2 separate regions of the Homo sapiens genome follow, and region 1 is reported to be linked to region 2. Evidence: microRNA targets listed by miRTarBase, many of them from high-throughput screens and not tested one by one. Region 2 holds a microRNA gene; the other region holds the end of a gene's coding sequence.
What was found. Region 2 holds the annotated microRNA hsa-miR-3914 (AAGGAACCAGAAAAUGAGAAGU, at 1,993-2,014, opposite strand). A microRNA usually pairs through its seed, bases 2 to 8, with sites in the 3' UTR of a target mRNA and lowers its output. Matches are read on the target gene's strand: a 7mer-m8 pairs with bases 2 to 8, a 7mer-A1 pairs with bases 2 to 7 and ends in A, and an 8mer does both.

Region 1 (3,000 bases), not on the chromosome of region 2:
CTGGCTAACACAGTGAAACCCCGTCTCTACTAAAAATACAAAAAAATTAGCTGGGCCTAGTGGCGGGCGCCTGTAGTCCCAGCTACTCGGGAGACTGAGGCAGGAGAATGGCATGAACCTGGGAGGCGGAGCTTGTAGTGAGCCGAGATTGTGCCACTGCACTCCAGCCTGGGCAACAGAGCAAGACTCTGTCTCAAAAAAATAAATAAATAATAAATAATGGGGTCAGCGAACTTGTTCCTATTTGATAAGGCAAACCTCTCTGAGGAGGTGATGTTTCAGCTGAGGTGTGAGGATAGAGAAATCATTCTTGCAAAGAAGAGTGTTCCGGGCAGAGAAGACAGCATGGGTGAAGGCCAGAGGCAGGAGAGAGCTTGACATATTTGAGGAATAGGAGCAGAAGGGATAGTGTGCTTAGATGTAACAAGTGACATAGAAGGAGAAACAATTTGAGATCAGAGGGAGAGGCAGGGACCAGATTCTAGAGGGATTCATGGAGGGCATCAGGATATAGTTGCAGAGGTTGGGTACTGCACAAAAGGCTCCCAGTTACCAAACTGTTGGGCCTATGTGGCTGCTGTCAGCCTGGAGAAAGGGAAGCTGTGTTGTTATTTGTCTCCCCGGAGGGACGTGTTATGGATAGGCCATGGTAAAGAGTTTGGACCTTATTCTTTTATTCCAGGGAAAGGCATAATGGGTTTAAGCAGAGGAGGGTTGTGATCCAGTTTCCTTTTTGAAAAGATCACGCTGACTGCTGTGTGCAGAAGGGATGCTCAAGGAGCAAAAGCAGAAACAGAAATGGGACCCACTCAAAAAGCAAGAACCATGGTGCAGGACAGGTAGGGAGGGTCTGCTCAGACCTCTCTCAAAGCCACCCTTTGCATGCTGGTTACTCCCCGGGAGGAGCACTGGAGCAGGGGCCTCAAGTCCCAGGCCCAGCTCTGACACTAGCTTGCTGTATGACCCGACAGGTCACTTCAAAGAGGTCGTGACTACCACTTGGAGATGCTTGAGCACACACCATGTTGGCACACACTGTATTGAGGGTCTACCATGTGCTAGCATCAGGCAAGAAAAAAGCAGTGAAGACAGACAAGGCTCCTGAGCCCTGTGCAAGAAGCGTGCATCCTCCCGGGTGGGGCGGGCAGGCAAAGATAAACCCATAAAAGTCAAGACAGTCTCGGATGGCGATGCACAGTCTGATGGGAATAAAACAGGGCTGTCACAGGGGAGGGCATGACTGTATTTACCACTGGGTGGGAAGGTCTTCGGGAGGCAGGGCTGAGGACTGAAGGAGCCACCTGTGGGAGGGGTAAGAGCACAGACCCTGATAGAAGGGGTCTGAAGTGTGCCAGGTACAGCCAGCAGCGCAGCCAGAGCGGGGAGTAAGAAGCAGAGGCCGGCAGGGGTCAGACTCTCATCCTGGGAGGCCGGGCGCGGTGGCTCACGCATGTAATCTCAGCATTTTGGGAGGCCAAGGCAGGCAGATCACCTGAGGTCAGGAGTTCGAGACCAGCCTGGCCAACATGGTGAAACCCCGTCTCTACTAAAAATACAACAATTAGCTGGGTGTGGTGGCGCCTGCCTGTAACCTCAGCTACTCGGGAGGCTGAGGCGGGAGAATCACTTGAATCCAGGAGACAGAGGTTACAATGAACTGAGATCGGGCCACTGCACTCCAGCCTGGGCAACAGAGGGAGACTCCATCTCAAAAAAGAAAAATCTCATCCTGGGGTGGGAAACCGCTGAAGACTGCTAGAACAACAGAGTGAGCCGTGATTGGGCCCCTCACAGGCCAGGTGGTAATGCCTCAGGTCCCTACAGATCTGGCTTGTGCCCCTCAAGGGAGACCTCAGAAGCTGGGAAGAAAGGCATGCCAAGCACACGTATTTCTACAGGGATGGCTAAGGACTTGAGGCAAGCCTTGGTCACCACCTGCTTGGGTATCTGGGGAGGGAGGCTCAAGTTGTGAAGAAGCGTGGGGCCTCCAGCTCAGGCCCATACATGTAAGTTTAAATCTCCCAGCCTATTTCCCTGGCTTCAGGCTGCAAGAAAACAAGATGTGTGTGCGTTGGGCGGGGGTTGGGATGGTGGAGTCAGAGCTTGCCCCAGCCCAATCCTCCCCCTCAGGCAGTCACCACACTGACACAGATGCAAAAAACCATCCATTTATACAGTTTGTGGTTCAGAAGCAACAATATGCACAACGGTGGAACAGTCTGTGCTGTCCCCACCCCACCTGAACTCGCCAGTTCCTGTCTCCCAAGGGGCACAGAACACAGGCCCCCTGCCTGGCAGGACCCGACTTAGTTACAGGCCCCTGGGAGGGGCGAAGCCCTTAGGGGTCGAGGCCAGGAGGGAGGAGGACCAGCACCTGATGCCCCTGGGGGCCCGCTGGGTCATGGAACTGTGTGTGTGGAGGGTGGGGGGTCAGCCCACCACGGGCCATTTCTCCCCAAGGCTAAGGGCGGGGGAGCAAGTAAAGCTGAGGAGAGGGCTTCATGGGACAGGGTTCCCATCCCCTGCTGGGAGGGTGTTCCTGGATACCCCACAAGGCACTACAGATGCAGACTGTAGGCGAGCACCCCCATCTTTGGCCCCCGATTGCCTGGCTCTCCCCCTGCCCCAGCTCCCACTGTGGTTTGGCGGGGGAGAAGAGAAGGGGCTGGGCCCCCCACTCCCTCAGCAGACACCAGCCAGGAACCGACCCGGCGGGCCGAGGCTAGGAAGGACCCTCTCCCGCTGCTCTGGGCTCCTGGGGTCCTCTTGGCTCGGCCTCCCCCTCTTTTAGCGCTGGCTGTTGCGAATAAATAAATAAATACCTCCCTGCCCGCCCCCGCCCCTACAGCTGGCTCTCCTCCTCCTCCAGGGAGCGGTTGAGTCCGGGGATGAACTTGAGCAGCCGCCGGCGGAAGCTGCGGTACTTGGTTTTGCGCAGGCCGGGGCCGCATAGGGCCTGCTCGCGAGCCTCAGTCCAGAGCGCGCCCGGCGCGCCCCCGC
Region 2 (4,460 bases):
TTACTAGGTTGGCGACCTGATGTCACCCAGAGCCAGAGAAGTTTCCATATCTCAATGAACCTTTTGGATTCGAAGAGAGATAATTACTAACTCCACGGACTGGCCTTAGAAGACTCTTCCTCTGACATCATCCAATTCATTCTGCCACTTAAAAAAAGAAAAAAAATCCAGGTACCGTGGAAAGCCACTGGAAGCTTTAAGCAAGAGAGTGTCCTGATTTACAATTAAAAAATTTCTAATTAGGCCGGGCATGGTGGCCCACGCCTGTAATCCCAGCACTTTGGGAGGCTGAGGCAGGCGGATCACTTGAGGTCAGGGGCTCGAGACCAGCCTGGCCAACATGGCTAAACTCCATCTTTACTTAAAAATACTAAAATTAGGCGGGTGTGGTGGTGCGTGGCTGTAATCCCAGCTACTTGGGAGGCTGAGGCAGGAGAATCACTTGAACCTAGGCGGCAGAAATAGCAGTGAGCCAAGATCGCATCATTGCACTCCAGCATGGGTGACAGAGTGAGATTTGTCTCAAAATAAAATAAAATAAATTCTAATTTTGGTAAAACATACATAACATGAAATTTACCATCTTAACAATTTATATGTGCATATATCAGTAGCGTTAAGTATATACACATTTTTGGGCAACAGAACTGTTTTCATCATGCAGATCTGAAGCTCTGTACCCATTAAACAATAACTCCCCCTACCTGCTGTCAACGCCCCCCACTATTCTTCTTTCTCTGTCTCTAGAATTTGACTACTCTACATACCTCATTTAAGTGAAATCATACAGTAATTGTCCTTTTGTGACTGGTTTATTTCACTTAGAATATCGTCCTCAAAGTTCATTCAAGTTGTAGCATGTGTTAGGATTTCCTTCCTTTTGAAGGCTGAATAATAATCCATTGTATGTTTACATCTTAGGCTGGTGCAAAAATAATTGCTGTTTTTGCCATTGAAAGTAATGGCAAAAAACAGAAATTACTTTTGCACCAACTTAATGTATCCTCTTTTGTTTATTCATCTGTTGATGGGTACTTGGGTTGCTTCTACCTACTGACTATTGCAAATAGTGCTACTATGAGCATGAGTGTGCAAATATCTGTTCAAGTCCCTGTTTTCATTTCTGTTTTGTTTTGTTTTGTTTTTTGAGACAGAGTCTCGCTCTGTTGCCCAGGCTGGAGTGCAGTGGCACAGTCTCAGCTCACTGCAGCCTCTGCCTCCTGGGTTCATGCCATTCTCCTGCCTCAGCCTCCCGAGTACCTGGGATTACAGGTGCCCACCACCACACCTGGCTAATTTTTGTATTTTTAGTGGAGATGGGGTTTCACTATGTTGGGCAGGCTGGTCTTGAACTCCTGACCTCAAGTGATCTGCCCACCTTGGCCTCCCAAAGTGCTGGGATGACAAGCGTGAGCCACCACCCCTGGTCCCTGCTTTCATTTCTTTGGGGTTTATGCCCAGAAGTAAAATTCCTGGATCCTGTGGTAATTCTATGTTTAACTTTTTGCAGAACCGCCATACTGTTTTCCATAGGGGTTGCAGCATTTTGCATTCCCATCAGCCGTGCACAAGGTACCACTTTCTCCACATCCTCGCCAACACTTGTTATTTTGTTTTCTTGACAGTAGCCATTTTAATGGGTGTGAGGTGGTATCTCATTGTGGTTTATGTCACATTTTTGAGTATACGTTTTACCCTGCTGGGTATATGTTATTACACTAGGTGCTGGCTTACAGAGGCAATAAGACCCACTTTCTGCCATGAGAGAGGAAACTCACAATCTGTTGGAGGAGACGGGCATCTAAACGGAAAATTATAATACAGCTTATCAAGTGCTATGATAGAGACAGGTCTTAAGAGAGCAGAGAGTGGATGCAATCGAGGAAGACTTCCTGGTCTTCATAGCCCCACCTCTAGGAAGTCTTCCTTGGTTGCACCCACTCTGTGCTCCGTTAAGACCTGTCTCTGGAGTAGCAGTAGAGTTCCTACTCAACTTCTCATTTTCTGGTTCCTTCTACCAAGTTAAGCATACTCATTAGAAGGAACCAGAAAATGAGAAGTTAAATCTGAAGTCCAAGTGGTTGGTGAGTATTGGTTAGAGCACTATTTTTAGAATAGAACAATGCTTATGAGTGAAGCATTTTTTTTTTCTTTTCATTTGTGCATTTCTCTGGCTCTGGGAGATTGTAAAGGTTACTTCATTGGGATGCTTAGATCACAGTTTCTGGTTATTAGAAAGAGGCCACACTGAGACCTTTGGGAGAAAAGGGGCACAGCAGGTGGGTAGGTGGGACGTGCCTCATTGAGCCTGATTCAGGGGTCTTGTGTGTTTTCCATTTCATCCAATTCTGGGAAGTCTGAAGGCTCCGGGTCAGAGGGGAGTTTGTTGCATGGGGGCAGTTGTCTGGAAAGCTTAGTGACAAAGTAGCAAATAGGAGCAAGGAAACAAAGTATATAAAGACCTGCTATTTAGGAATGGCACTATTCTTGTCGTGGTGACTCACATTTGTCAAGCCTTGAAGGATATTTGCAGAGGAAGAAAGAAGCATTGGATTGCAGCTCGGTGGGAGCAGATCCTGGCTGCCAGTGCCGGGACCAAGGCAGGGTGTGATCTCACCCGTGTTGCCAAGGGTCATCCCACACCCAGACTGTTCGGTTTCCATTCTCATTCCTTGGCATTGCCTTTTATAGAACTGCTTTCAAAAGAGGCATTGGGGCTGATGTCACAGGATCACTATGTGTTTCTCAGGAGTAGGGAGGGAATGAATAGGATTTTTCGAACATTCTATACCAAATTCACTGCCCTCCCTCCATTTGATTTAGGACTTACATCTTCAGCATCCTCTCTTTGTTAGGCTCCTCTGGAATTGTCTGTCCCCCTGGCTAGATCAAGAGCCCCTCTGTATCCCCAGAACCTTGCAGCTTCAGGCACTTTGCACGAGATAAATAAACATGGATGCAATGAGAAAAGGGATGTGACAGGTATTGGGGAAGACAAGCCAGCAACTGCTCTGGGCTCTGCTTTGGAAGTGCCTTTCATTTCTCTTTAGTTTTTTTTTTTTTTTTTGAAACAGAGTCAAGCTCTGTTGCCCAGGCTGGAGTGCAGTGGCACGATCTCAGCTCACTGCAACCTCTGCCTTTTGGGTTCAACGGATTTCTTATGGCTCAGCCTCCCAAGTAGCTGCATTACAGGCAAGCACCATTACGCCTGGGTAATTTTTGTATGTTTAGTAGAGACGGGGTTTCACCATGTTGGCCATACTGGTCTCGAACTCCTGACCTCAGGTGATCTGCCCACCTCGGCCTCCCAAAGTGTTGGGATTACAGATGTGAGCCACTGCGCCCAGCTCATTTCTTTTTACTCTCTATCCACCACTTGTCCTAGCTCAAATCCTTTTGAGTCTGACTTGGACAGCTGATGTCACCCTCTACCTAGTCTTTTTTCCCTTCAGTGCCATTTTTCCAACTCTTGTCAGTCATTTTTATGCTGTCATTGCATCCAGACCTGATCATTTCTTTTCTCTTTCCTACTCAAAACCTTTCTTGGTTCACTGTGACTCAGTGAATAAATCCATGACCCTTGGCAGTCTAATTCCTGTTTGTCTTTCCAGCCTTGCCATCCTGCCCAGCTACCTGCCTCCCATCTCATTCCCTGCTAAATTTGCTTCTTCCTTATGTGAGTTGAGGCACACGCTTTCCCTTCTGCTGGGAAGGAGTTTCCACCCCTCTGAGACCACATCCAAATGTTATCTCCTTGAGGAAGCCATGCATGCTCCCTGCCGAGACCAAGGAGAGAAAACCATGCCTTCGTCTGGGTTCGCATAACTTTTGTCTACACTTTTGTCGTGTCATTTACTGCAAAAGTTGTCCCCCAAGCTATCCTTTTATTTACATTTGCTTATTAATTTCAAGAATTATTTGAGATAGTATTCAAGTTACATACTAGAGGAATATTCCTATGAATATAGGATATTATAATGATAATAAGAGTTATGTTAAGGAATTCCCATAATAAAGGGTGGAGGGAGAGTGGGGATGAATTTGGGGTCATGTAAATACAAACTGCATATGCTGTGATGTTTAGCGCATTTGCCAGAAATGTTTAGAATACTTATTTCTAAACTTGGACCTCTACTTTCTACCAGCCAACACTAAGAGAGAAATATATTGATATGATTTGGCTATGTCCCCACCCAGATCTCATCTTGAATTCCCACGTGTTGTGGGAGGGACTTGGTGGGAGGTAATTGAATCATGGGGGCAGGCCTTTCCCATGCTGTTCTCGTGATAGCGAATAAGTCTCACAAGATCTGATGGTTTTATAAGGGGGAGTTTCCCTGCACAAGCTCTCTCTTTGCCTGCCGCCATCTGTGTAAGACGTGACTTGCTCCTCCTTGCCTTCTGTCATGATTGTGAGGCCTCCCTAGCCATGTGGAACTGTAAGTCCATCAAACCTCTTG

Region 1: the mRNA of TAMALIN is a reported target of hsa-miR-3914. Seed matches in the 3' UTR shown: 7mer-m8 at 2,699-2,705.

Annotation. Positions count from the first base shown.
Region 1 is chr12:52,015,042-52,018,041 of GRCh38, reverse strand. TAMALIN (trafficking regulator and scaffold protein tamalin) reads right to left here. Exons shown (of 8, transcript NM_181711.4): 8 at 2,153-3,000. The coding sequence ends at 2,843. It overlaps LOC124902934 (a long non-coding RNA gene), which reads right to left and starts at 1,499. Exons shown (of 2, transcript XR_007063311.1): 1 at 1,251-1,499.
Region 2 is chr7:71,305,695-71,310,154 of GRCh38, forward strand. MIR3914-1 (microRNA 3914-1) reads right to left here and starts at 2,076; the gene lies at 1,978-2,076. All of the region lies in intron 1 of GALNT17 (polypeptide N-acetylgalactosaminyltransferase 17), which reads left to right. MIR3914-2 (microRNA 3914-2) reads left to right here and starts at 1,980; the gene lies at 1,980-2,074.